Homo sapiens: one gene and its partners. The protein of the gene in region 6 purifies or fractionates together with the protein of the main gene of each other region. This does not show direct contact. Each region holds a gene or a part of one and is shown on either strand. Other genes may lie near its edges. The genes, in order: SLC4A1AP, NADK, NEMF, BPNT1, NPEPPS and MTMR1.

The links.
Region 1: the proteins of MTMR1 (region 6) and SLC4A1AP purify together in Homo sapiens (affinity purification with mass spectrometry, with the first as the bait; 2 studies listed by BioGRID). This does not show direct contact.
Region 2: the proteins of MTMR1 (region 6) and NADK purify together in Homo sapiens (affinity purification with mass spectrometry; one large-scale study listed by BioGRID and IntAct). This does not show direct contact.
Region 3: the proteins of MTMR1 (region 6) and NEMF purify together in Homo sapiens (affinity purification with mass spectrometry, with the first as the bait; one large-scale study listed by BioGRID). This does not show direct contact.
Region 4: the proteins of MTMR1 (region 6) and BPNT1 purify together in Homo sapiens (affinity purification with mass spectrometry; one large-scale study listed by BioGRID and IntAct). This does not show direct contact.
Region 5: the proteins of MTMR1 (region 6) and NPEPPS purify together in Homo sapiens (affinity purification with mass spectrometry, with the first as the bait; one large-scale study listed by BioGRID). This does not show direct contact.

Annotation. Positions count from the first base shown.
Region 1 is NC_000002.12:27,673,196-27,677,859, reverse strand, and holds part of SLC4A1AP (kanadaptin), read right to left. Parts: intron 2,329-4,664; coding exon 2,168-2,328; intron 566-2,167; coding exon 496-565; intron 123-495; coding exon 1-122.
Region 2 is NC_000001.11:1,754,471-1,759,134, forward strand, and holds part of NADK (NAD kinase), read right to left. Parts: coding exon of another isoform or gene 4,631-4,664; intron 4,173-4,630; exon of another isoform or gene 4,062-4,172; coding exon of another isoform or gene 3,895-4,061; intron 3,665-3,894; exon of another isoform or gene 3,588-3,664; intron 2,841-3,587; coding exon 2,711-2,840; coding exon of another isoform or gene 2,637-2,710; intron 2,413-2,636; exon of another isoform or gene 2,309-2,412; intron 2,188-2,308; coding exon of another isoform or gene 2,139-2,187; coding exon 2,033-2,138; intron 1,874-2,032; coding exon 1,788-1,873; intron 1,007-1,787; coding exon 904-1,006; intron 229-903; coding exon 74-228; intron 1-73.
Region 3 is NC_000014.9:49,842,330-49,846,993, forward strand, and holds part of NEMF (ribosome quality control complex subunit NEMF), read right to left. Parts: intron 3,937-4,664; coding exon 3,811-3,936; intron 1-3,810. UniProt on the Homo sapiens protein: Key component of the ribosome quality control complex (RQC), a ribosome-associated complex that mediates the extraction of incompletely synthesized nascent chains from stalled ribosomes as well as their ubiquitin-mediated proteasomal degradation.
Region 4 is NC_000001.11:220,086,373-220,091,583, forward strand, and holds the start of BPNT1 (3'(2'),5'-bisphosphate nucleotidase 1), read right to left. Parts: upstream 3,417-5,211; 5' UTR 3,314-3,416; exon of another isoform or gene 3,272-3,313; intron 1-3,271. UniProt on the Homo sapiens protein: Phosphatase that converts 3'(2')-phosphoadenosine 5'-phosphate (PAP) to AMP and inositol 1,4-bisphosphate (Ins(1,4)P2) to inositol 4-phosphate. Is also able to hydrolyze adenosine 3'-phosphate 5'-phosphosulfate (PAPS) to adenosine 5'-phosphosulfate (APS).
Region 5 is NC_000017.11:47,533,580-47,538,243, reverse strand, and holds part of NPEPPS (puromycin-sensitive aminopeptidase), read right to left. Parts: intron 1-4,664. UniProt on the Homo sapiens protein: Aminopeptidase with broad substrate specificity for several peptides. Involved in proteolytic events essential for cell growth and viability. May act as regulator of neuropeptide activity.
Region 6 is NC_000023.11:150,730,696-150,735,359, forward strand, and holds part of MTMR1 (phosphatidylinositol-3-phosphate phosphatase MTMR1), read left to right. Parts: intron 1-774; coding exon 775-924; intron 925-1,846; coding exon 1,847-2,035; intron 2,036-4,664. UniProt on the Homo sapiens protein: Lipid phosphatase that specifically dephosphorylates the D-3 position of phosphatidylinositol 3-phosphate, generating phosphatidylinositol. Could also dephosphorylate phosphatidylinositol 3,5-bisphosphate to produce phosphatidylinositol 5-phosphate.

The DNA of each region.
Region 1 (4,664 bases), on a different chromosome or scaffold from region 6:
TTTCCTCAGTTCAAAAGTTCTCAGGTGAAGTTTCTTCCGGGACACACCATCTAATGTACTGCCTGATTTCATTTCTGACATGAACGCATCTAAAGAATCCTGAGATGGAGACTCTGATAGAACTGTCCAAGAAAAGAATAACACATGTTTAGAAAGATGATCCTGAATATTTTAAAATTCAGCCAAAGTTTCCATATAAAAGTCACTAACATAAAACCGGACAGAGGACATCACTAGTAATAGGAATAAGGAACAGGTTATAGCCATGAGACCTTGGGAAGTCATTTTGTCTCAATGTGCTTCATTCCCCTCAACAATTAAATAAAGAGGTTAAACCAAATGATTTATAATGTTCTTTCTAGTTCTAAAACGGTATGTTGCTCCTTTAAAAGGCTCCATATTCTGTATGGTATTTCTTATTAACTAATGTAGCCCCAGTGCCTAGCATAGAGCACTATATGTGGTATATTAATAAATATTTGATGAAAAACTTACCTTGGCTTGAGGCTTTCAATCTCTCAGAAATTTCAGAAAGTTCCCTTTCAGCATCATTTAATTTTGCAACCTGTAACACCCAAATCAACAGGGTTACAAAGTTTTTCTTCTTTCAAACTGTTTTTCATCCTCCTGTTTTAATTATTCTTACTAGAAGTTTTAAGAAGATTAATTCAAAAGTCCAGTTAAACTGCTACTTATGGAGTTAACACTTTTTTTTTTGTTTTGAGATAGAGCCTCATTCTGTTGCCAGGGTAGAGTGCAGTGGTGCAATCTCGGCTCTCTGCCACCTCCGACTCCCGGGTTCAAGCGATTCTCCTGCCTCAGCCTCCCAAGTAGCTGGGACTACAGGTGTGCACCACCACACCCAGCTACTTTTTGTATTTTTAGTAGAGACAGGGTTTCACCATGTTGGCCAGGATGGTCTCAATCTCCTGACCTCATGATCAGCCTGCCTCAGCCTCTCAAAGTGCTAGGATTACAGGTGTGAGCCACCACACCTGGCCAGAGTTAATAGTTTTTTTTTTTTTTTTTTGAGATGGAGTCTCGCACTGTCACCCAGGCTGCAGTGCAATGGCGTGATCTCGACTCACTGCAACCTCTGCTTCCTGCATTCAAGCAATTCTCCTGTCTCAGCCTCCAGAGTAGCTAGGACTACAGGCACACACCACCACGCCTGTCTAATTTTTGTATTTTTTTTTTTTTAGTAGAGGTGGGGTTTCACCACATTGGTCAGGTGGGTCTCGAACTCCTGACCTCAGGTGATCCACCGGCCTCAGCCTCCCAATGTGCTGGGATTACAGGCATGAGCCACCATGCCCAGCCAGGAGTTAACACTTTTTATGTGTTAAATCCAAATTTAATTTATTTCTGAATTAAAAAACACAGAATTAAACAGAATGAATAACTCGGACTTCATTTTACTCAGAAGAAAGAGCTCAAGGCATTTGTTTTCACATAAATCAAAAGGATAGATGTTGGGTAATGTTTTAAGCTCTGAATCCTACTATAAATTAATACCTGTAACAAATTCCTTGAAGTGCAATTGCTGAATCAATGCATTTTTAATACTGACAGATGTCGTAGGATTGATCACTTAAAAGGTTGTATTGTACATTCCCACCAATTGAGAGTCTACTTCTCCATATTCTGGTCAAGCTCTGCATTATTAATCTTATGTTTTTTTCTAGTCTAATAGGTAGCCTATTACCTGCCTATTATTGTCTGTTACCTACCCATTAACACGTCACCTTGTGATAATTTCCTGAAGAACATACTGTTTCAGACTACATATTACCATACTACATTCTTCAAAATTCCTTTGACTTCTCTTGACTGCCAGAAGGCTAAAGTCAATTTCACCTCAGAACGCCCTAACTTGGAACTTTTTCCTTTCCTTTTGAGAGAGGTAATATCATATCCAAAGAATGTTAATTAATGGATCAATATCCTGAAGGAAAGGATCTAGCAGCAAGCCATATTTTTTTCAAACAACTTGGATAAGACTAGTTGTCTGTTACCATTAAATTAACAGACCACAAAAGTTATACTTCAGTATCAGATTTCAATGCTACTACTTTAAAAATTATCATAAAACATATTTAAATAATACATTATGTTATTAAAAATTAAACTATTAAATACCACAGCTACTTCCATAAATAAAACTTGCCAATGATTCAAAGGTCTCTGGCTTCTCATCAATCTTGCCAGCCTTCTTCATTCTGTTCAGACGCTTCTTCTCAATCAGGCCAGTCCTATCAAGAAATGTGTCATCATCACTATCATAAAAGTCTTCATCTTCCCAGTTCTTGGCTTTCCTTTTCCGAGATACTAGAGGTAGATAAAATGATGAATAAATAAGTTTTTAAAAAAGAAAAGAAAAAGAAAGAAGGCAAGTAGGCAAGGAGCTTAAAATGTCACCATCAACTACTGAAAGAGAGGTTCTACAAGCTGCCAAACTACGTATAAAAACAAAGGGCTAAACCTTGAAGACATTATACTAAGTGAAATAAGCCATATATAAAAGGACACTTACTGCATCATGTGAGATACCTAAAGTAGTCAAATTCATAGAGACAGAAAAGTAGAATGGTGGTTGCCAGAGGCTGGGAAGGAGGGAGAATGAAGTTAGTGTTTAACAGATACCAATTTCAGTATGGAATGATAAAAAAGTTCCAAAATGAACAGTGTTGATGGTTCCATAATATTGTGAATGTACTTAATGCCACTGAGTGATACTCTTAAAATGCTTAAAATGGTACACTTTTCTGTTATGTATATTTTCCCACAATTTCTTATTAAATAATTTTTCATTAAAGCAAATAGTTAATTTATTTAATGAGCAAACGGCTTTTAAAAATCAATGAGGATGGCCAGGCATGGTAATCCCAGCACTTTGGGAGGCTGAAGGGGGATGGATCGCCTGAGGTCAAGACCAGCCTCACCAACATGGTGAAACCCCGTCTCTACTAAAAATACAAAAATTAGATGGGCATAGTGGCGGGTGCCTGTAATCCCAGCTACTCAGGAGGCTAAGGCAGGAGAATTGCTTGAACCTGGGAGATAGAGGTTGCAGTGAGCCGAGAAAGCGCCACTGCACTCCAGCCTGGGTGACAAGAGTGAAACTCTATCTCAAAAAAAAAAAAAAATCAATGAGGAAAAAAGGAAAATGAAAAATGAGAAAAAGGACAATAACCCAAAAGAAAATTTGAAAAAGGATAATGAAAGCAGTTCACAGAAAAATACAATAAATATTTTTAAATATGTTACTTTAAAAAAAAATAAAGTACAAATTTAAAAATTAGATACTTCTCATCTATTAGACTAGAAAAACATAAAAAGATTAATAATTGGTGGGAATGTACATTGATACAACCTTTTTGATGGTCAAGCCTACAATATCTGCCATTAAAAATGCATTGATCCAGCAATTCCACTTCTAGGAATTTATTCTATAAATATCAATGCAATAGTATTTATAACAGTGAATATGTAAAGAGTCCATCAATAAGAAACTATGACAGCTATTACTTTTTTGTTCACCCTACAACATTCTACTCCCTTTGTTCTGATAAAAGTACCTCTTTCCCCTAGAAAATTCCTCCCCCATTTTATCTGGTTTAGGGATAGTCATAGGACCAAAGCCAAATCAGTAAGACTCTTTCCCTCATATTTATATTTAGAGATGGGGCAAAGAGGCTCTCTTTACAATGAGGTTATTAAAGTGAGAGACTGTTAAGTTCAGGGCTGTAAGCAATCAGCTTTTCAGCACAGGGTAAGAATCTGTCTGCAAAGTTTAAAAATGCACTCGTGAGACAGACTCACTCACAGACACACACACACACACACACACACACACACACACACACACAACTTGTATATGTCCTGGTGATGCTGAGTCTACTTTGGTAGTACTAAGTTATGGTTTCAGAACTTGAGGTTCTGGTTCATGCAGTTGTTCCTTCACTCCTGTTCCTTCATCCTGAGCTATTCTTCCCAGCTTCTGCAGCCAATGACCTTTCCCCTAAGCTAGTTTGAATTGGACTTCTATTATTTGCAAGGAAAATAGTCCTTATTAATATAAGCCTAATTTGCAGGTTAAGATGGTACATTAAACACACATATCTAATTTCCCTCTTTCCCTAAATCCCAATAAACCATAGTAAAGAGATGTACCCACGCCTGGGCAACATAGCAAGACCTTGCCTTTACTAAAAATAAATCTAAAAAAAGTAGCTGGGCATGGTGGTGTGCACCTGTAGTCCCAGCTACTTAGGAGGCTGAGGCGGGAGGATCGCTTGAGCCCCGGAAGTTGATGCTGCAGTGAGCTGTGATCAGACCACTGCACTCCAATCTGGGCAGCATAGAGGAAAGAGAAGGAAGGAAGGGAGGAAGGAAAGAAGGAAGGAAGGAAGGAAGGGAGGGAGGGAGGGAGGGAGGGAGGGAGGGAGGGAGGGAGGGAAAGTAAGGGAAAGGAAAGGAAAAAAGAGAAGGGAGGGAAAGGAGGAAAAGAAAAAGAAAGAAAGAAAGAAAAGAAAGAGAGAGAGAGAGAGAGAGAGAAAGAAATTCATAAAGACCCAAATTTTAGAAAATTAGAAAGTAGACAGATGAGTAGAAACTAACTTAGCAGAATTTAAAAAGATAAATCCTAAACAGTGGGGAAAGCT
Region 2 (4,664 bases), on a different chromosome or scaffold from region 6:
GAAGGTCCTCATCCCTGGGACCGAAGTCGCCCCACCCTGGGCCCCTCACCGAGGCCGAGGCGCCTCCACTCACCTGGTACTGCATGGCCTGCTTCCCGACATCCATGTCCAGGCCTGCAGCCTGCGAGCCGTTCTCACCCAGCCCATTGTGCACGGCCGTCTTCTTCCCCCGGAGCTCCTTCACCACCCTGACCTTCAGCCGACTCCGGAGAACAACAGCTGCGTTCCCTGAGGTCCAGCAGGAGTCAGAGGGCATGCATCAGGGAAGTCAGTGGGGTCAGGGGCCCCACCCCAGGGAGGCCAGTGGGAGTCAGAGGGCTCTTTCTTCTCCCAAGTTGACACACTTCTGTGCCTTTTTCTTTTTATTTTGAGATGGAGTCTCACTCTGTCACCCAGGCTGGAATGCAGTGGTGTGATCTTGGCTCACTGCAACCTCTGCCTCCCAGGTTCAAGTGATTCTCCTGCCTCAGCCTCCCAAGTAGCTGGAACTACGGGTGCGCACCACCACGCCCAGCTAATTTTTGTATTTTTAGTAGAGACGGGGTTTCACCGTGTTGGCCAGGATGGTCTCATCTCTTGACCTCGTGATCCGCCCGCCTCGACCTCCCACAGTGCTGGGATGACAGGCGTGAGCCACCGCGCCCGGCCGACACTTCTGTGCCTTCTGAGAGTGAGAATCAGCTCACTTCTGCCCAACACACATGGCAGCTTCAACCTGTGATCTGCTGAAACTTCTCAGTGTCAGTAAAAGGTTTGAACCACTCAAGATTTAGAAATCCCTGAATCTTGAAACCTTTAAATGTTGCTCCATGCATCATTAAATGAAAATAAACCCCCCGCAAGCAAGCGAGACAGCAGCGCCATGATCAGAGCTCCTGTGGGCTCCAGAACATTCCAACTCACCCTCTATCACCTGAGTAACTTGGGACTGAAAGTTCTCAAAGCTGAATGGGGTCAGGAAGCCCAGGGAGCCCAGGTGGAAGGCCATGACCGGAGGGACGCTGCCCTGTGAGCCGACGGAGAGGTCACTCAGTGCCCACGCCGTGCACCCCCGCACCACCCAGCTTTCCAGCAGCACCTCAGGAGGGACCCAGCTCTGTGGGGACAGCACCCCGACCCTCTGCAGGAGGGACTGGCCATGTGGACAAGCGGAGGGGGACGTCGCAGGCCAGGGTGGGCCGGGCCACCAGGGCCAAGGTTGGTGTGGGGAGCTGGTGAGGAACAAAGGTGGCAGGGCTGAGCGGCCCCCTGGGCACGGAGGGCTGGGGGAGCTGGCGAGGGCGGGTGGGAGGCAGCCTTGGGGTCGGAGCCTCGCGCCCCACAGGTGCTAATGGGGAGATGGGGAGAAAAGCAGGGCGGGCTGCGGGCATTTCCGGTGTCACCAACATGCAGTGGGCCAAGGGCAGAGCCAGGGTCCCCCACACAGCGTGGCCCTACAGCCCCAGGGGAGAGCTGTGCTGCTGAGAAACCAGGAAGAGGAGCTCAAGGGAGGCCCAGAGGGGATGGGCCAGTAGGCGAGGTCGTTTCCCAGGACCCACCACCCTGCGCCACTCCCTGCTGTCCCAGGCGGGCGCTGGCCACCCCCAGCCGTAGCACTGTGTCCACACTGCCCCTGGCCCCACCGTCGCACCCCACCGGGCTGCCACCATGGGCCTCAGTGCTGGCCGCTCTAGGTGACTGCTCTCGTATAAAGGGGTGAAAAGCAATGGAAGCCATGCTTGTGAGCCCCTCGTTACGCAGCACCTAGACTAGAACCTGGTGTGGGTCTGGAAATGTCAGCGCTTCACCTGGAAAAGCGAGGAAGCGTACAGCAGCGTCCCGTCTCCCCCCAGGCAGATGATGAAGTCTATCTGATTGGAAATGTCATCATAATCTAGGAAACACAAAGCAAAACCAAGAAGAGGCTGTCACACAGTGGCCCCTCTGTGGCGCAGTGCGCAGACACCAATGACAAGGGCAACAGTGCCAGAAGCTTCCAATGGGGCGGGGAACTGTGCTGGAGAAACCAAGGACAGAGCTGCTGACAGCCCACCTTCTCGAAAGGTACAGAATTTCTTCTTCACTGCCCCAAAGCTTTCATCGCTGGCGATGGCAGGGTCTTCTAGCACTTTCTTTTCCACATACACGATCATGTTCTCCTGGAAGCAAAGTGCCAACCTGCTCATTCCACCTGCAGACCCCACCCTCCTGCAGGGAGGTTCCCGACTCACGGGCGCTGTGGTCAGAGACCTGGCATCGTGGCCTGCATGCCCGCCCCCCCACGCTCACGCTGAAACTTCATCACCAACGCGCCAGGAGGAAGCAGGACCTTTAAGAGATGACTGGGCGGAGGGGGCTCCCTCTCAGGAATTGACTAAGGCTGTTATTTCAGGAGTGGCTTTCCTGGGCGCCGCAACCCCCACGCCTGCTCTTCTGAAGAGAAGACACAGCAGGAAGGCCCACGTCAGATGTGGCCCCTTGATCTCGGACTTCCCGGCCTCCAGGGCCACGAGCCCACCAGCTCATTGTTGGTCACCCAGTCTGGTGCTTGCCATGGCGGCACACACAAACCCAGACACCCGGCAGATCCCCACTCAGTCCCCAGTTCCAGACAAGCAGCCGTTGCCCAGCACTTGAGGTGGTTCCCATGGTCTCACGGGGCGGTGATGTGGATGGAGGCCCCCCCAACTCCATGTGCACCCCAGGCCCCCTTCCCCCCTGCCCCGCGTGCCTCCATGAGGTGCGTGCAGAGCTCCTTGAACGGCTGCAGTAGGCTGGCATCTCTCATCTTCTTGATGACAAGGACGCTCTTTGGGGACTTGTTCCACGTCAGCCGCTGGCTCGCGGGGTCCTGAATGTGCCTTTAGGGGAGGAGAAAAGAGTTCACACCAGCTGCGATCTCCCTCTTGCGGAAAAGGTGTATGACTTAGAAAATAAAAAAAAAAATCTTTAAAAAGGTGTTTTCACCTCCCAGGGAAACGTGCTCGGTGGCCACGGGCTCACAGGGCCTAGGGTCGCGCCACAGAGACAGGGTCAGGGGTCAGTAGGGTCCGGAGTGACCACCTCTCACCTGCTTGGCCCATCACACGCAGGCTCAGGCCCACAACCCCCACCCGGGCACCACGCTGACCCAAGTGCACGCACCACAGCCCTTCCCAGCCCCCGGCCACTTGCCTGCCTGGCTCCTCAGTGACGCTGGTGGGGCAGAAATGACCACGAAAGCCCATGGCTGGGCCACTCTTTGCTTGATGCCCTCCTCAGGCCCCCACGAAAACCCAAACCAGTTGACATGGTGACTCTGTCCCTAGGATCCTCTGCACACAGTTTCTGGCCCCACGGGAGCCCAGGACCCCTCAAGGACCCGCTTCCCCCCCTGCACACAGCTCACTACCTCCCTGCATGAACGGACTTTAACCTCACTCACTCTCACAGTAAAAATCACAGGTTTAAAAGTCCGTGGCAGCCCTGACACAGCCACCCGCGCTTTGCTGGCTCTGACCCCGACCACTGTGCCCGGTGTTTCTCCACAGGCAGGGCCCACCCCGGTGGGATTCCCATTACCACGTTAGTCACAGAAAACATCCCAGCCCAGAACCGGGAACACACACCACGGAGCCTGCTCCTGTTCCCAGAAGCCAAGGGAGGGCGCAGCGGGGCTGGCCACCGTCGTCAGCGCTCACCGCCTATCCTCAGCCCCAAAGGACAAGTTCTTATACCACCGCGCCAGCCAGCTAGTTCCAAGTTGCCCAATCGAGAAAGCTGCTGCCTGCCATGCCTCTTCCCAGCAGTGACTTCCCCAGGAGTGTGACCGTCCCACTAACACCCCCAGAACCACAACACAGACGCCGATGGCAGCCACAGGGCCACAGACCTTAGCCCATCGCTTGTGACCTTCGGAAGCTGGTCAGCACTCACCCTGTGCAGGCATTACTGGGAGGCGTGGGGTCACTCATGCCATCCCCTATGAGCTCAGCACCTGCCGGGTCACACATGTGGCTCGCGAGGTAGCCCCTGCCTGCTGGGAGCCGGCCAGTGTGTCCACAGCATCCAGGCCACGCTTGGCGAACACGCGGCCGCCCCATCGGTATGGTCCTGACTGTGCGCCCACACTAGAAGCCTAAGCTCTTCATACTCAAAACTCAAAGCAAAACACAATTGTGATGAGACTTGGTAAAGTTGTTGTAAAAGCAACTAAGTCAAAAGAGCTTCCTACACTTATAAAAATCAAACAAAACAAAACAGTTTCCTCATTGGTCACATGGTCCTCCTGCCTAATCCCTTCTGAAAAAAAGTCCTCAGTTCAGCAGCAAAGAGGCCACACTTCAGCTCCCTGCTCCTAACTGAGCCGGGTGGGACCAAGCCCTCTGTTCCCGTGGCCTCAGACCTGGCCAAGTACCCAGCCTCCAGCCTCGCCCCAGCACTGCGCCAGCCACCGCTCTGGCCCGCGGAACCGGCTGGGCCCCAGGGAAGGCACCCTCAGGCCACAGTCAGGTGGAAGGGCGTTCCCTGCCTCCTAGCCCGCTGCGTCACTCTGCTTGGCTCCGGCCCAAGGGCGTGCAGGTGGCTCACGGTCCTCCGGCCTGGTCAGCCAGCAAAGCCCCCGCCCTGCACACGGCTCCCCCTGCTCTCCCCGCCAACAGTCACCACTGACCCAGTGGCCTGGCCTACACCCATTCCAGCCCTGA
Region 3 (4,664 bases), on a different chromosome or scaffold from region 6:
GCATATGTAGGCTAAAATGAAATTACTTCTTAAAGATTTAGAATTAAAGACTTTTTAAAATTTAATATTGCTAGATAACCTTTTCAATAAAAAAGAAGGGGGAACATAATGAAAATAAAGCTAACGAAAGAATACCACCTTCCAAATTTATTACTGACAGTGAAGATCAGAGTTACTCTACAGGTATAATTAAAATACAAAGAAGCATCCATGAAAACAGTCAAAAATGCCTTACAACTGTTTACAAGATAGTCACAGAATACGGTGGGAGTAATCCCAAATTCATCTGAAATGACAGGTTGCAATGTAAGTGGCTTCAGTAAATGTAGCCACCATTTACGTTGGTTAGAGAGATAGATAACCAGAAATTACTAAGTGCTGAAAAACTAGTAGCAGGCCAGGCGCAGTGGCTCACGCCTGTAATCCCAGCACTTTGGGAGGCCAAGGTGGGCAGATTATCTGAGGTCAGGAGTTCAAGACCAGACTGGCCAACATGGTGAATCCCTGTTTTACTAAGAGTACAAAAACTAGCTGGGCGTGGTGGCAGGTGCCTGTAATCCCAGCTACTCGGGAGGCTAAGGCAGGAGAATCGCTTGAACCCGGGAGGCGGAGGTTGCAGTGAGCCAAGATCACACCACTGCACTCCAGCCTGGCGACAGGGTGAGACTTATTCTCAAAAAAAATTAAAAAATAAAAAAAAAGAAAGAGTAAAAACTCAGGTTAGAGTAGAAAAGGACATTTACTACACAAATAATCAGCAAAGGGCTCATAATCAGATTAGATAAAGAGCTCTAAGAGATCATATCAAATGTTGCTAAGGATGTGGAGCTAAGGGAATTTTCAACATCAATGAATCTCACAGACATTATATATTGAATAAAAGAGCCAGGCGTGGTGGCTCACCCCCGTAATCCCAACACCTTAGGAGGTTGAGATGGGAAGATTGCTTGAGCCAGGGGTCCAAGGTCAGCCTGGGCAACGAAGTGAGAGTCTGTCTCTACAAAAAATAAAAAAATTGGCCAGGCATGGTGGTGCACATCTGTGGTACCAGCTACATGAAAGGCTAAGGCAAGAGGGTCACTTGAGCCCAGGAGGCCGAGTTTGCAGTAAGCCCTGATCATGCCACTGAATTCCAGCCTGGCCAACAGAGCAAGACTCTATCTCAAAAAAATAAAAAATATTGCATAAAAGAAGGCAGACCCAATGTCATGCATTGCTTAACAATGGGGATACATTCTAAGAAATGCATTTAGGCAACTTCGATGTCGTGTGAACGTAATAGAGTATACTTACACAAACCTAGACGGTGTAGCCTAATACATCCACCAAAGATATGATATAACCTATTGCTCCTAGGCTAGGAATCTGTATAGCATGTTACTGAATACTGTAGTCAACTGTAATACAATAGCAAGTATTTGTGTATCTAAGTACATCTAAATATAGAAAAAGTACAGTAAAAATATGGTATTACAACAACAGTTCCAGGCCGGGCGCAGTGGCTCATGCCTGTGATCCCAGCATTTTGGGAGGCCAAGGCGAGCAGATCACCTGAGGTCAGGAGTTTGAGAACAGTCTGGCCAATATGGTGAAACCCCATCTCTACTAAAAATACAAAAATTAGCTGGGCATGGTAGTACATGCCAGTAATACCAGCTACTCAGGAGGCTGAGGCACTAGGATTGCTTGAACCCGGGAGGCAGAGGTTGCAGTGAGCTGAGATCACACCCTTGCACTGCAGCCTGGGCAACAAAGTGAGACTCTGTATCAAAAAAAAAAAACCAAAACAAAACAAAAAAAAAACCGCAGTCCCCAGCCTTTGGCACCAGGGACCAGTTTCATGGAAGACAATTTTTCCATGGATGGGGGGTGCAGGGGTATGGTTTCCGGATGAAACTGTTCCACCTCAGATCATCAGGCATTAGATTCTCGCAAGAAGCATGCAACCTAGATCCCTTGCATGCACAGTTCACAATAGGGTTCACGCTCCTATAAGAATCTAATGCCACCACTGATCTGACAGGAGGCAGAGCTCAGGTGAGTAATGCTCACTCGCATACTGCTCACCTCCTGCCGTGTGGCCTGGTTCCACAGACCAGTTCCAGTCTGCGGCACAGGGGTTGAAGATCCCTGGTATAAAAGATTAAAAATGGAACACCTGTATAGGGCACTTACCATGAATGGAGCATGCAGGACTGAAAACTGCTCTGGGTGAGTGACAGTGAGTAAATGTGAAGGCCTGGGACATTACTGCATACTACTGTAGACTTGATAAATACTGCACACTTGGGCTACACTAAATTTGTTTTTTATTTTTTAATTTTTAAAAAAATTATGCTTACCTCAGACCAGATTAAATTTATGTATTTATTTATTTATATACATACACACGCACGCGCACGCGCGCGCACACACACACACACACACACACACACATATATTTTTTTTTTCCTTTTTGAGACTGAATCTCACTCTGTCACCTGAGCTGGAGTACAATGGCATGATCTCAGCTCACTGCAACCACTGCCTCCCAGGTTCAAGTGATTCTCCTGCCTCAGCCTCCCGAGTAGCTGGGACTACAGGCACGCACCACCACACCAGGCTAATTTTTGTATTTTTAGTAGAGATGCAGTTTTGCCACATTGGGCAGGCTGGTCTCAAACTCCTGACCTCAGGTGATCCACTCGCCTTGGCCTCCCAAAGTGCTGGGATTACAGGTGTGAGCCACCACACCTGGCCCAGATTAAGTTAGTTAGTTAGTTAGTTAGTTAGTTTATTTTTGAGACAAAGTCTTGCTCCGTTGCCCAGGCTGGAGCACAGTGACACAATCTGAGCTCACTGGAACCTCTGCCTCCCAGGTTCAAGTGATTCTCCTGCCTCAGCCTCCCGAGTAGCTGGGATTATAGGTGCCCGCCACCACGCCCAGCTAATTTTTGTATTTTTTAATAGAGACGGGGTTTTGCCATGTTGGCCAGGCTGGTCTTGAACTCCTGACCCCAGGTGATCTGACCCCAGGTGATCCGCCCTCCTCGGCCTCCCAAAATGCTAGGATTACAGGTGTGAGCCACTGTGCCCGGCCTGAGTCATTGCGCTCAGCCAAATTTATTTTTAAGATGTTTTTCTTTCTTCAATAATAAATTAACCTTTGCTTCCTGGAACTTTTTTACTTTATAAACTTTAAACTTTTTAGCTTTTTGACTCTTGTAATAACACTTAGCTTAAAACACATATCGTACAGCTGTACAATACTTTCTTTCTTTAGATCCATATTCTCTAAGCTTTTTTTCCATTTTAAATTGTTTTGTTTTTACTTTTAATGTTTTTGTTAAAAACTAACACACAAACTCACACACCAGCCTAGGCCTACACAGAGTCAGGATCAAGATGTCACTAAGCAGTAAGAATTTATTAGATCCATTACAATGTTACAGGACCAACGTTTATATGCAGTCTGTTGTTGACTGAAACATCACTATACATACAGCGCATCAGTGCATGACCGTATTTGACTATTTTCTGGTTGCATATTAGTCCTGAAATGTCAAGTACCAAATAATTTACTTCTCAGATCTTCATCTCCTACATTCATAAGGCTATTCTAAATGGCTAAAGTCTGCCTAAACTCAGACCTACAGATAAAATGAAGGTTATTACTGGAAAATTTTATTTTATTTGTGTGGCACCCATTTCCTAGGGTAGTAACAACCTTTGACACAGAAAAAAAATGTTCCCCCACTCATGTTATATAGCACTATTACAAAATGATTAATAAGAAATTTTCCTTCACCATATCCCACAAATTTAACTTACCCTATCATAGAGCTCAATGATTAAATGGTAAGCAGCTTCATCACTTCCAAATTGAAAATCTACAATTCTATCCACACCAAGCTGTTTTGCACTGACTAATCTCCGACTCTTCAAATGTTTTCGGCACTAGCAAGAGAAAGAAAAAGGCATTCATTTAGTAAAAGTGAATTCCTAACCATTTGGTATTGGTTTATAAATAAGCTTCTTTTCATTATCATCAGGAATATTTAAAACGTTGTGAATAACAGTATAGTCATAAAGTAATAGATTGCAGATGATAATCAGAGGGAAAACATTTTATTATAAACACTAACTCTGAAACAGTGTTTTATTTGCATTTTTTTAAGACAGGGTCTCACTCTGTCACCCAAACTGGAGCCCAGTGGTGTGATCATGGCTCGCTGCAGCCTCGACTTCCCTGGCTCAGGTGATCCTCCTGCATCAGCCTCCTGAGGATTGGGACCACAGGCACATGCCACTATCCCCAGCTAATTTTTTCATTATTTGTAGAGACAGGGTCTCACTATGTTGCCCAGGCTAATCTCAAACTCCTGGGCACAAGCAATCCTCCTGCCTTGGCCTCCCAAAGTGCTGGGATTACAAGCGTAAGCTACTGAGCCAGGCTTTTATTTTCAATTTTTAAGTAGAGAATGATGGACCTATAGCAAAATTTGCTTTGTTGCTTTATACCACTGCTAAATTCCTTGTTGTGGTCCTAATGACCTCACTCATAAGCCACAACCTTTATTTATTTACTTTATTTTGAGAGAGAGTCTCGCTCTGTCGCCCAGACTGGAATGCAGTGGCACAGTCTCAGCTCACTGCAACCTCCGCCTCCCAGGTTCAAGTGATTC
Region 4 (5,211 bases), on a different chromosome or scaffold from region 6:
GCGATTCTCCTGCCTCATATGGCTGAGTAGCTGGAACTACAGGCACGCATCACCACGCCTGGCTAATTTTTTTATATTTTTAGTAGAGATGGGGTTTCACCACATTGGCCAGGCTGGTCTCGAACACCTGACCTCAAGTGATCCACCCTCCTCGGCCTCCCAAGGTGCTGGGATTACAGGCATGAGCCACCATGCCTGGTCTGAGTTGCTAAAGTTTTTCTGAGACAGAGTCTCACTCTGTTGTCCAGGCTGGAGTGCAGTGGCGAGATCACGGCTCACTGCAACCTCCGCCTCCCGGGTTCAGCCGATTCTCCTGCCTCAGCCTCTTGAGTAGCTGGGACTACAGGCACAAGCCACCATGCCAGGCTAATTTTTGTACTGTTAATAGAGATGGGGTTTCACCATGTTGGCCAGGCTAGTCTTGAACTCCTGACCTTGTGATCCGCCTGCCTCCCAAAGTGCTGAGATTACAGGTGTGAGCCACTCCGCCCGGCCTGAGTTGCTAAACTTAAAAAAAAAAAAAAATGAGCCGGGCATATTGGCGGGCGCCTGTAACCCCAACTTCTTGGGAGGCTGAGGCAGGAGAATTGCTCGAACTTGGGAGGCGGAGGTTGCAGTGAGCCGAGATGGTGCCACTGCACTCCAGCCTGGGCGACAGAGCAAGACTCCGTCTCAAAAAAAAAAAAAAAAAAAGTTGAGTCCTTTTTGCATTCTTTTGATATTTTGATATAAATACATTTTGATATAAATACATTTCAATGCATGGTTTATAAAAGTAAAAAAAGAAACCATAAAAGCATGGAAATAAAAATTATAAACTTCATAAGCTTGGTAAATGCCCTTTAAGCATAAAACCAAGAATCCATAAAATATTCTATTGATAAATTTGACTCTATAAAACTAAGAGTTGCTGGGCGCGGTGGCCTGTAATCCCAGCACTTCGGGAGGCCAAGTCGGGCGGATGACGAGGTCAGGAGTTCAAGACCAGCCTGACCAACTTGGTGAAACCCTGTCTCTACTAAAAATACAAAAATTAGCCGGGCTTGGTGGCACGCGCCTGTAATCCCAGCTACTCAGGAGGCTGAGGCAGGAGAATTGCTTGAACCTGGGAGGTAGAAGTTGCAGTGAGCTGAGATCATTTGCACCATTGCACTCCAGCCTGGGTGACAGAGCGAGATTCCGTCTCAAAATCAATCAATCAATAAATAAAAATAAAATTAAAACTTCTACATGGCCAAAATACCATAAACTAAATAAACAGGTACTTGACAAAATGAGAAAAAAATATTGTATCACATACCAGACAAATGACTTAATTTGTAAAAGATCAGTATATAAAAGCTGAATAATCCAATAGAAAAATGAGCAAATAAACAAGAACGGGCAACACCTACAAAGAGAAAAGCACTGGCCATTAAATACATAAATACTCAGCTTCACTAATTATGAAAGAAATGCAAACTAAAACAATGAGAAATGATTATTTTATTTTTAATTAATTAATTAATTTATTTATTTTTTGAGACAGAGTTTTTGCTCTTGTTGCCCAGGCTGGAGTGCAATGGCGAGATCTTGGCTCACCGCAACCTCTGCCTCCCGGGTTTAAGCGATTCTCCTGCCTCAGCCTCCCGAGTAGCTGGGATTACAGGCAAGCATCTCCACACCTGGCTAATTTTGTATTTTTAGTAGAGACAGGGTTTCTCCATGTTGGTCAGGCTGGTCTCGAACTTCCGACCTCATGGCCTGCCTAAGCCTCCCAAAGTGCTAGGATTACAGGCGTGAGCCACCGCGCCGGGCCATGATTGTTTATTTTTAAGATTGGCATAGAAAAGAAAATTTGGCAGGGCACGGTGGCTCACACCTGTAATCCCAGCACTTTGGGAGGCCAAGGCAGGTGAATCACCTGAAGTTAGGAGTTCAAGACTAGCCTGGCCAACATGGTGAAACCCCATCTCTACTAAAAATACAAAAATTAACCAGGCATAGTAATACAAAAATTACTCAGGAGGCTGAGGCAGGAAAATTGCTTGAACATAGGAGGCAGAGGTTGTGGTGAGCCGAGATCGCGCCACTGCAGTCCAGCCTGGGCGACAGAGACTCCGACTCAAAAAAAAAAAAAAAAAAAAAAATTGTCGCTGAATGCAGTGGCTCACACCCGTAATCCTAGAACTTTTTGGGAGGCCAAGGCTGGTGTATTGCTTGAGCTCAGGAGTTCGAGACCAGCCTGGGCAACATGGCAAAACCTCGTCTCTACAAAAAAATGCAAAAATTAGATGGTGTGGTGGCACATGCCTGTAGTCCCAGCTGCTCGGGAGGCTGAGGTGGGAGAATCACCAGACCCTGGGAGGTCAAGGTTGCAGTGAGACATAATGGCACCACTGTACTCCAGCCTGGGGGACAGAGCTAGAACCTGTCTTAAAAAAAAAAAAAAAAGAAAGAAAGAAAGGCTGGGCGCGGTGGCTCACGCCTGTAATCCCAGCACTTTGGGAGGCCGAGACGGGCAGATCACGAGGTCAGGAGATCGAAACCATCCTGACTAACACGGTGAAACCCCGTCTCTACTAAAAATACAAAAAAAATTAGCCAGGCTTGGTGGTGGGCGCCTGTAGTCCCAGCTACTCGGGAGGCTGAGGCAGGAGAATGGCGTGAACCTGGGAGGTGGAGCTTGCAGTGAGCCGAGATTGCACCACTGCACTCAAGCCTGGGCGACAGAGCGAGACTCCGTCTCGAAAAAAAAAAAAAAAAAAAAAAAAGAAGGAGGAGGAAGGAGGAGGAAGAAGAAGAAGAAAAAAGAAGAAAGAAGAAGAGTTTGTCCTTTGTCCAGTTTGCAAGGGTGTGAGGGAACATGTTCCTGAGCATTGTTGGCAAAGCGGTGAACCCTCTTAGGAGAGTTTTGAGAACCTTAATAAAAGTATAAAGTACGTATCTTTTGAACCAACAATTATATTTACAGAGAAATCCAAATAAATCACGCAAACCTATAAATATGTAGAAATGGCAGTTGGAAGAATATTTGCTGTTTAAAGAAATTTAATTTTAGGTACCAAGCAGTTTCTAAATTTGGGTGCATCAACAAACTCAATGTCTAGGTTTGTCTTGTTTCTACAGTATATGGCTATAAAAACCTTCCGGATCACGAAAATAAAAGCACAGATAAACAATTAAAATATCGACACTCAAGAGTCCAAGTCGGAAGTTAGAATATCTGGAGAAGCAATCTGATTCACATAAACCTTTTTCGTTTTATTTTTTTAACATAAATCCTATCTACCTGGCTCTTGCCCTGACCGGCCGGAGAGAAACGGTGACAAACCTGGAACAACGTTGGACCAAAGACACTTCAGGAGGAGCAAAAGCGCGTTATCGTAGACCCAGGTCCCTCGTTGTGTCCAGTACCGAGCTTTGGCACTGTCAATAAGTCTTTTGAGAAGGATGGCATCCCTACCTCAGCTACTGAGCATGCGGGAAACTGCGCGCAAGCGCACAACAGCGATTTCACACTGCCTCTTTAGACTCCTGATCCGCGGGAAAATTCCACTTGTCCGTGTTTTCTCCAAGCTCTCCGTAGGTGCAAGTCACCTGTTGCATTAAATAAAAGCGAAAGATGTGTCAACTTTCAAAGATTGGCTAAAAAAAGAAAAAGAAGAAGGAAAGAACACATTAAGCCAGCAACAGTGTGTTGAAACAAAAAAAAGATTGGTTTTGGTTTCAGCTGTCTTCCAGCCCACTTCGTAGAGTTCACTGTTTTAAAATGTTCTTTGTATTAGTGATACCACTCTGCGGCTATTTAACTTCGAACCCCTAGCGGTCCGTGGACAGGCTTCAGCAGGTCCACCACACACACCTCCACCTCCCACTCCCCACGCAATAACACAGCAACTTTATGCAGAATTGTGTCAAAGATGCTTGCTTACCTTTTTTTTTTTTTTTTTTTTTTTTTTTTTAAGCGATAGATAGCTTGCTCTGTCGCCCAGAGTCGATTACGGCTCACTGCTGCCTTCCCACTTCTAGGCTCAAGCCATCCTCCCGCCTCAGCCTTCCGTGTAGCTGGGACTACTGGTGGAGGTGCGCGCCACCACACCCAGCTAATTAAAATATTTTTTGTGTACAGATGGGATCTTTTACTGGGGGGCGTGGTTGGGGAAGGGGGCAGTGTCTCATCCTGTCGCCCAGGCTGGAGTGCAGTGGCGCAGTCTAGGTTCACTACAACCTCCTCCTCCTGGGTTCAAGCGATCCTTCCTCCTTAGCCTCCCAAGTAGCTAGGACTACAGGCGCGCCACCACGCCGGGCTAATTTTGTTTGTTTTTTAAGTAGAGACGGGGTTTCATCATATTGGCCAGGCTGGTCTTGAACTCCTGACCCCAGGTGATCTGCTCACCTCGGCCTCCCAAAGTGCTGGGATTACAGGTGTGAGCCACTGCGCCCAGCTTAAAAAGGCTTTTACGTCTTCATTTGATTTTCACAATAACTCTGTGAGTTAAGTAGACCCTTTTTGGGAAGTGGAAAAATATACATAACTTAAATTATATTACTTTAACCATATATATATATATATATATATATATATATATATATATACACACACACACACACACACATATATACATATATATATTTTTTGAGACGGCGTCTTACTCTGTCGCCCAGGCTGGAGTGCAATGGCTTGATCTCGGCTCACTGCAACCTCTGCCTCCCAGGGTTCAAGCTATTCTCCTGCTTCAGCCTCCTGAGTAACTGGGACTACAGGCGCACACCACCCAGCCCAGCTAGTTTTTGCATTTTTTTTTTTTTTAGTAAAGACGGGGTTTCACCATGTTGGCCAGGCTGGTCTCGAACTCCTGACCTCATGATCCGCCCGCCTCGGCCTCCCAAAGTGCTGAGATTACAGGCATGAGCCACTGCACCTGGCCATACTTTGGTTTTTATAATTAAATTGTATAATTACATGACAAGTACAAATGGCTTAAATAAAGACAAACATAATGCAAGGTAAGCTCAACAAGTGAGAATAGAAATCTGCAGTCATCCTAAAGAGTAGCCATCTCCCAAGTGTTCATTGTATCCTCTCATAGGTTTTACGAGAAAACGGCATAGTTGAATTCAGCAAGTTATGTAGAGGTTGGTTAGGAGAGTTTCTATGTAAATATATCTTTGTGCTCCTGGAAGACTATAGCTGTGATAGATCCCAGATGTGAAACCGTGGGTCAAAGA
Region 5 (4,664 bases), on a different chromosome or scaffold from region 6:
AGAGTGAGACTCTGTCTCAAAAAAAAAAAAAAAAAAAAAAAGAACAGATATGGCTAGGCGCGGTGGCTCACACTTGTAATCCCAGCACTTTGGCAGGCGGAGGCAGGCAGATCACCTGAGGTCAGGAGTTCAAGACCAGCCTGGCCAACATGGTGAAACCCTGTCTCTACTAAAAATACAAAATTAGCCAGGCGTGGTGGTGCATGCCTGTAATCCCAGCTACTAGGGAGGCTGAAGCAGGAGAACTGCCTGAACCTGGGAGGCGGAGGTTGCAGTGAGCCGAGATTGTGCCACTGCACTCCAGCCTGGGCAACAGAGCGAAACTCCGTCTCAAAAAGAAAAAAAAAAGAAAAAAAAAAACAGATATGAAACTGATAAATTATAGTACATAGTTTGGGGTCAATGAGAGATGTTCAAAATAAAGTTCAGTATTTAAAAAAAACAATGAAACAAACCTACACTATGAGGAATTGCAAAGCATAAAAAGATAATGTATTTTAGAAATATTTCCATTCAGATTAGTCAACTTTTTTTTTTTTTTTAAAGACAGGGTCTCGCTGTGTCACCCCGGCTGGAGTGCAATGGCGTGATCTCAGCTCACCGCAACCTCCGCTCCTCCGCTTCCCGAGTTCAAGCAATTCTCCTGTCTCAGCTTCCCGAGTAGCTGGGATTACAGGCATGTGCCACCACGCCCGGCTAATTTTTGTATTTTTTTGTAGAGACGGGGTTTCACCATGTTGTCCAGGCTGGTCTCAAACTTCTGACCTCATGATCCACCCACCTCAGCCTCCCAAAGTGCTGGGATTACAGGCGTGAGCCACCACACCCAGCCTAGTAAACTTTTTTAAAAATGTCTAAGGGCCTCAAAGGGTAAACTTCAGTTATCTGGAAAATTCACTGCAGAATTCATTGCCAGATGAATTAGACAAAGCTTAGCATACAAAACTGTTATACTTCTTTCCTCACAGATACATTTCAAAAAACAGAAAATCTGAACAAATTCAATTCCTTATCACCAATATTTTGAATTTAATTTTATATATATGAATTTTTTTTAAGAAAATTTCTTCCTTTTTTTTTTCCTGGAGACAGGGTCTTGCTATGTTGCCCACACTGGTATCAAACTCCTGTGCTCAAGCAATTCTCCCACCTCCACCTCCCAAAGTGCTAAGATTACAGGAGTGAGCCACAGTGTTGGCCAAAATGATTACATAGAAAATATGCAGAAAATGGCCAGGCACGGTGGCTCATGCCTGTGATCCCAGCATTTTGAGAGGCCAAGGCGGGTGGATCACCTGAGGTCAGGAGTTTGAGACCAGCCTAGCCAACATGATGAAACCATCTCTCTACTAAAAATACAAAAAATTAGCTGGGCTTGGTGGTGCGCGCCTGTAATCCCAGCTACTCTGGAGGCTGGGGCAAGAGAAACACTTGAGCCTGGGAGGCAGAGGTTGCGGTGAGCCGAGATCGCGCCATTGCACTCCAGCCTGGGCAACAAGAGCAAAACTCCGTCTCAAAAAAAAAAAAAAAAAAAAAAAAGAAGCCAGGCACGGTGGCTCGGTGGCTCACGCCCATAATCCCAGCACTTTGGGAGGCTGAGGTGGGTGGATCACCAGAGGTCGGGAGTTCGAGACCAGCCTGACCAACATGGAGAAACCCCGTCTCTACTAAAAACAGAAAAAATTAGCTGGGCGTGGTGACGCATGCCTGTAATCCCAGCTATTTGGGAGGCTAAGGCAGGAGAATTGCTTGAACCTGGGGGGGCAGAGGCTGCGGTGAGCCGAGATCATGCCACTGCACTTCAGCCTGTGCAACAAGAGCGAAACTCCATCTCAAAAAAAAAAAAAAAAAAAAAGAGAGAAAATATGCAGAATTTGGGCAAAAAATTTGTAACACAGAATTGACAATAACCATTCAGGTGCCAAATTTTTAATCTGCCAAACAAACTACTATATTGGCAACTATTCACTTAGTGCCAATTTAGTTATCTCCAACATGTATATTTTGTTAGTAGAGGCCAGGGGTTGGCTAGGATATCCTGATTTCTGGCCTTGAATGATAAACTTAGTTTCTCTGGCACAGGTAAAATATTTCCATAAGAGAAAGCCCAGCTGGGCACGGTGGCTCACGCCTGTAATCCCAACACTTTGGGAGGCCGAGGAAGATGGAATGAGGTCAGGAGATCAAGACCATCCTGGCCAATATGGTGAAACCCCATCTCCACTAAAAATACAAAAAAATCAGCCAGGCATGGCGGCGCGTGCCTGTAGTCCCAGCTACTCAGGAGGCTGAGGCAGGAGAATTGCTTGAACCCGGGAGGCAGAGGCTGCAGTGAGCCAAGATCCCGCCACTGCACTCCAGCCTGGGTGGCAGAGCAAGACTCCATCTCAAAAAAAAAAAAAAAAAAAAAAGAATACCCAATTATTGTACCAACCACTACACACTCATAATCATAAATAGTAGTCACACACATAAACTTATAATTCATTTTAATTAATTATCCACAAACGGAGAGGATCAAAATATGAAATATCTACAAAAGTCCACTGCTCTCAAGTATCCAGTGTAAAGGGAGGGGACAGGGAATGAAATAAATTTTGGGCCTAGAGAAACTTCTGTATAATAACAAATTTTCAAAACCAGCTAGACCACACTAATGTGAAAGACAACTAATTTTTTTTTTTTTTTTTTTTTGAGACGGAGCCTCGCTCTGTCACCCAGGCTGGAGTGCGTGGCGCGATCTCGGCTCACTGCAAGCTCCGCCTCCCGGGTTCACACCATTCTCCTGCCTCAGCCTCCCGAGTAGCTGGGACTACAGGCACCCGCCACCACGCCCGGCTAATTTTTTGTATTTTTAGTAGAGGCGGGGTTTCACTGGGTTAGCCAGGATGGTCTCGATCTCCTGACCTCATGATCTGCCCGCCTCTGCCTCCCAAAGTGCTGGGATTACAGGCGTGAGCCACCGCGCCCAGCCTTTTTTTTTTTTTTTTTTTTTTTTTTTGAGACAGAGTCTTGCTCTGTTGCCCAGGCTGGAGTGCAGTGGCGCAATCTCAGCTCACTGCAAGCTCCGCCTCCCAGATTCACGCCATTCTCCTGCCTCAGGCTCCTGAGCAGCTGGGACTACAGGCTCCCGCCACCACGCCCAGCTAATTTTTTGTATTTTAGTAGAGATGGGGTTTCACCGTGTTAGCCAGGATGGTCTCGATCTCCTGACCTCGTGATCCGCCCGCCTCGGCCTCCCAGAGTGCTGGGATTACAGGTGTGAGCCACCGTGCCCGGCCAAGACAATTGATTTTTAAATCACTGAACATGGACTAATTTCTTCACCTTCTGCAGCAGTCCACACCCCAGGCCAGGTTAAAAATCCACTAAGTTGGCCGGGCATGGTGGCTCATGCCTATAATCCCAGCCCTTTGGGAGGCCAAGGGAAGGGGATCACCTGAGGTCAGGAGTTCGAGACCAGCCTGGCCAACATGGCAAAACCCCATCTCTACTAAAAATACAAAAATTAGTTGGGCGTGATGGCACACACCTGTAGTCCCAGCTACCCAGGAGGCTGAGGCAAGGAGACTCGCTTGAACCCGGCAGGGGCACAGGGTGGAGGCTGCAGTGAGTCGAGATCACACCACTTCACTCCAGCCTGGGAGAAAGAGCGAAACTCCATCTCAAAAAAATAAAAATAAAAAATAAAATAAATCCACTAAGTTTCTAATATGTAACCTACACAAATACTCTGGGCTTATCGTAAAATTTTGTAACTAAAGCAACTAAGCAACTTGCATGTTTTGTGTTATGTGATTCCAACTGTTAGGAAACTGATCCAATATCAGTCATAAATATAGGTTTCTACAGATAAGAATTTTGTCGCCGGGCACAGTGGCTCACGCCTGTAATCCCAGCTCTTTAGGAGGCCAAGGCGGGCAGATCACGAGGTCAGGAGGTCGAGACCACAGTAAAACCCTGTCTCTACTAAAAATACAAAAAATTAGCTGGGTGCAGTGGCGGGCACCTGTAGTCCCAGCTACTTGGGAGGCTGAAGCAGGAGAATGGCGTGAACCCGGAAGGCAGAGCTTGCAGTGAGGCGAGATCGTGCCACTGCACTCCAGCCTGGGCGACAGAGCGAGACTCCATCTCAAAAAAAAAAAAGAATTTTGTCAATATTTTAAAATGCCCACAAGATACCACCTAATGCCACAATTTAAACGTATTGCTCTAATTCATGGATTTCAAAAACATTAATATATGCTTTTTACTTCTTACCAATGTTAATTCCTCTTTTACCCTTCCAAACATGTCAATTAGTACAATTTAAAAGTCCAATCATCCTTTAATAAAACCTGTTGGAATTCACTATTGTGTCATCTTTGTGTTGCCATCTAGCCTGAAAAGAATTTCTGGAAAAAAAGTGTTTTGAAAAGTTCATGCTACTTAAAAAATTTATTTATTTTTTATTTATTTCCTTGCATCAAATTAACAAGTCCCTGCTAATATCTAGTATATTACCATATGCTCACTCAATGGCACAAACCAGTCTTCCACAAAAGTAGAAAAGAGGTAAGGAGAAACATGTCACTGCTTGTTGTTCTATCCCGATACTTAAATCAAACTCACTTCTTTAATAAGTAATCATTTAAAAATCTGTACTTTTTTCTAGACTTTTCCCA
Region 6 (4,664 bases):
AACTTTTTCGAACAAGTTATGCACAGGTTTAACTGCTAGCTTATAGGTTCTCCATCTTTCCTTGATTCTCTCTTCTCCCTGTGCCAAACCTTAGACTTTGTCATGTTTGTTCATCCTGTTTCCAGAGGGTGAGTGGGACTCAAGGACAAGGACGGGTTTAAAAACCAAATTTGCCAGATGGTTTTTATTAGATGTTCTGGTAAAGAATTGATGAGTAAGGATCCAAACCACTGACTACAGTTAGATTCGAAGCATGTGGTGTGACTACATCTGTCTGATCCAGTGTTCCCGGGTCTGGGAACTCTTCAGTGCATTGTCAGCTTCAAATTATTCCACTAAGATCTTATTTTCATGACGTTTGTTTCATGACGTTGTCTCTACCTTATATTTGGTATAATGTTTTACGTTACTTATTTTAGACATTCGTAAGAGGTATCTGTGTTTCTAAAGGACTTTTGAGTATATTCTCAAAAATAACAGAGCTCATTATTTATAGAAAATAGGACAAGAAATATATAGAAATGTGATTCTAGCGTATAATTTTCATGTTTTAGTATGGTTTGGATATTCTTATGCTTCTTTAGATTTTTAGAAATGTCTAGGAAATGGGTTTTACCGAATAAATATATATATTGACTTTTAAGTTACAATAAACAATAAATTATAAACGGATTTTAGTTGCAAATAAGAAATGGATGTACTTCATGCTTAGTACTTTTTCAAAGTGTAAAGTCATGCATTTCACCCTCTTCTTCTTTCTCCAACACCTTACAGGGCTTGCCAAATGAGAGTTGGAAAATATCCAAAATAAACAGTAATTATGAGTTCTGTGACACCTACCCTGCCATCATTGTTGTGCCAACTAGTGTAAAAGATGATGACCTTTCAAAAGTGGCAGCTTTTCGAGCAAAAGGCAGAGTCCCTGTAAGTAATAAACATTGTCATTTATATAGGAATATATATTGCGTTAGATCTAATATGGAGAGATTTAAGACAAAAAAGAAACTAGTGAACAAAAATGGAAAGCAGAAAAATAAGCTTATAAACCTGAACATACCTTTGATTCTCAACAAATACCTAATTATATAAACAATCTGTTTGCTATGACTCCCTCTTTTACGATTTCCTATAACTAAGTATAAGGGGAACTTCAGTCATACCCTCAAAAAGTAGTAGAGAATGACAAAGGAGTAGCAACAACAAGTTATCATGCTATTGTATTACCAGTTGGCATTGCTGGTTTCACTGAATCATCCTAGAGAAAATGCTTCTTTCTTAGATACTGAGCATGATGCCATAGCTGCGTGGGAGGGACATCATTACAGAAGTAGTAGCAGACAGCTGGGAGTAATGGTTTGAGCCCAGAGTTTGCATCTGTTGTAATCCTGAGTCACTTGGCCACTGGAGGAAAATGAGAGGTGGGGTGGCAGAGTGTCAGATTTTATAAGAGACTGTATATTCACTTTGTCCTTACCCTGCCACGTATATTATTGTTGAGATACAAAGATGTTTTTAAAATTAGGAGACAAGGTAAAATTAGTCAATCAAATTGGAATGGGGCTAGATTTTAGTAATAGTTTGATTTAGGATTTGTTTTTCTTAGAATCATAGAATATTGGGGATGGAAGGGGATTTTTAGAGCTCATGTAGTCAGAATTGTTTCATCCTGACCAAAACATTGAGTCTGATGGCCACTACAATGCTGTGATTGGCCTGCCCACTCTCACTTTTGAAGAAAATATGTATAAGAGACCGTGCTTGAGAAGGGAACTTGTTTTTCCTACCAGGTAATTAGAGCATACATTCTTTAGGAACTGTACTAATATTTATTGCTTAAAAACACTAGGTGTTGTCATGGATTCATCCGGAAAGTCAAGCAACGATTACCCGTTGCAGCCAGCCACTTGTGGGTCCCAATGATAAGCGCTGCAAAGAGGATGAAAAATACTTGCAAACAATAATGGATGCTAACGCACAGTCACACAAGCTTATCATCTTTGATGCTCGACAAAACAGTGTCGCTGATACCAACAAGGTATATTCTTAATAGCACTGCAGAAACACTGGATATTTTCATGTCCTGTCTGTAAATCATTATGCAGTTGGAATAACTCATTGATTTCCTCACCACCTGAAGTTAGAATCATTTGGAGTCCCATAGCTATTCCTCCCTGGTGTATGCTCCTTGGGCTGTGTTTGGTGTCTCACATGGGTTGGGATCTTGTCTGTTTCATTGCTTCTCTACAATATCCTGTCTGCTAAATCAATTAAGTAAAGACCTAGAAAGACAATTATCATCTAAAGGATTTAGCATTTTAATGAAATGATCGTGAGGTCCTTGGAAGTCCGTTTAAGGAATATAGTGGTTAGTTGATTAATTCATGTCTGGTCTGAATTTCTTTTAGAATGGAATCAGCCATGTGAAATGTGTAAATGTACAAAGTTTCCATAAATCTCATGGAGCACCTGTGTAGTGTACCTCGGGTGGCAGTGAGACATGGTTAAAAACACCTCCGTTCCCATGACTTTCATGATATCACACCCTGAGTTTCTCTCGCTCTTCAGCCTGGCCTTCTCCATCTCCTTCACTGATTTCTCTTCCCAGTCTTCAAATGGCATTGCTCCTCGAACTTGGTCTGGGGTCCTCTTTGCTCTACACAGACTCCTGGGGCCATCTCTGATGACACGGCTTTAAACACTGTCTGTATGCTGAGTTCAACTTGAGCTTGACACTGCAGTTTCTCTCCTGTCCTGATCCCTCCTAAGGTTGAGACTGGATTTCTATCCCATTGTATGGTTGACATCTCTGCTTGGCTGTTTCCCAGACCACAAACCCTCCGTATATTCCAACTGGCCTGAGAGGCACGATGGCAAGTTGGTGAGACCCCTTGGCTTTGGAATCAGTTACACCTGGGTTTTCCTCCAGGTTCTGCCACTTGGTGCTCTAGAATCCTGAGCCGGTTACTTAACCTCTCTCTGTGCCTCAGGTTCCTCTTCTGTAAAACAGGAGATAATATCAGTGTCTCATGTCATGGGTTGTGTGAGGATTAAAATTCAGTGAGAAGAATGCATGTAAATGACTTAGCACAGTGGTGAGTGCATCCTCAGGGCACAGTACATGATGCTGATAAGCTCGCCACCCCTGTGGTCAAGGGTGTTGCCCAGGTGTCTGACTTGAGGGTGAATAGTGGTGTCTGTTACTGAGATGGGGAAGACTGGGAGAGGAACAGGGCAGGGAGGAAGATGGGGAAGTATTAGTTTTCTGAGGCTGTCATACAAATTACTACCAATTTGTTGGCTTACAGCACCAGAAATGTATTGATCACAATTCTGGAGGCCAATTCTGCTCCCTCTAAAGGTTCAAGGGGAGAATCTGTTCCTTGCCTCTTCCAGCATGGGGTGGCTGCCCCAGCCTTCCTGGGCTTGCAGCCACATCACTCCAATCTCTTCTTCCGTCATCACATGACCCTCTCTTGCTCTGGGTTTCTGCGTCTCCTCCTTTCTCTTCTAATGACACTTGTGATGACATTTAGGTTCCACCTGAAATAATCCTGGATCCTTAAACACATCTGCAAAGACCCTCTTTTCAATTAATCTTGGAATCCTTAAACACATCTGCAAATCTCAGGATCCTTAAACATCTGCAAAGACCTTCTCTTCAAATAAGGTCACATTCACCATTGCCAGGGATTCGATGTGGATGTCTTTGGCGGGGCCACTTTTCAGCCTACCATAGGGAGGCATCCCTCAGTGAGGCCCCCTTGCTCCCCACATCTGGATCATTAGCTGTGTCAGTCTTTCTACATCTCTGCCTCCCACCTGTCACCACCATATCCCAAGGAATTACAAAATGTGAGAAAAGCCATATTGGTGGAGGCCATCTTCAGACTAGCCAACAGGGTGAGGGCAGTTCATTGTGTTTTATCCCATGCAGGAGAGATAGAGACAGGACACTAAATTGTATATCTAGAATAATTTTAACTATGGCAGTATATGTGTCTAGGAAACAGTATTTTCTAGGTCTCCACTGGTTCTTTATATATAAGATTATGTCATATGCAAGTCGAGATAATGTGACTTCTTCCTTTACAATCTGGCTGCCTTTCATATCTTCTTCTTGCATTGGTATTGCATTGGTTGATTTTTATATGTTGAACCACTGTCGTGGATTGAAAAATGTCTCCCAAAAGTTTGTCCAACTGGAACCTCAGAATGTGACCTTATTTAGAAATAGGATCTTTGCAGATGTATTAATTATGATGAAGCCATCTTGGAGTAGGGTTGGCCCTAAATCCAGTGCCTAGTGTCCGTATAAGAAAGCCATGTAGAGACACAGGCACACACAGAAGGAAGATGGCGATGTGGCAATAGAGGCAGAGATTTAAATGATGCAGCTAGAAGCTGAGGAGTGCCAAGGACTTCCAGCAACCACCAGAAGCTAAGAGAGAGACATGGAACAGATTCTTCCCTATACCCTCCTAAAGGAACCAACTCTGCCAGCACCCTGATCTCGGACTTTCAGCCTCCAGAACTGTGAGAGAATAAATTTTATGTTGTTTTAAGTCCCCCAGTTTGTGATAGCACCCTTAGGAAGCTAATAAAACCTCCTTACATTCCTGGGATAAATCCCACCCGTTCATGGTATGTGATCAGTCCCCTTCATA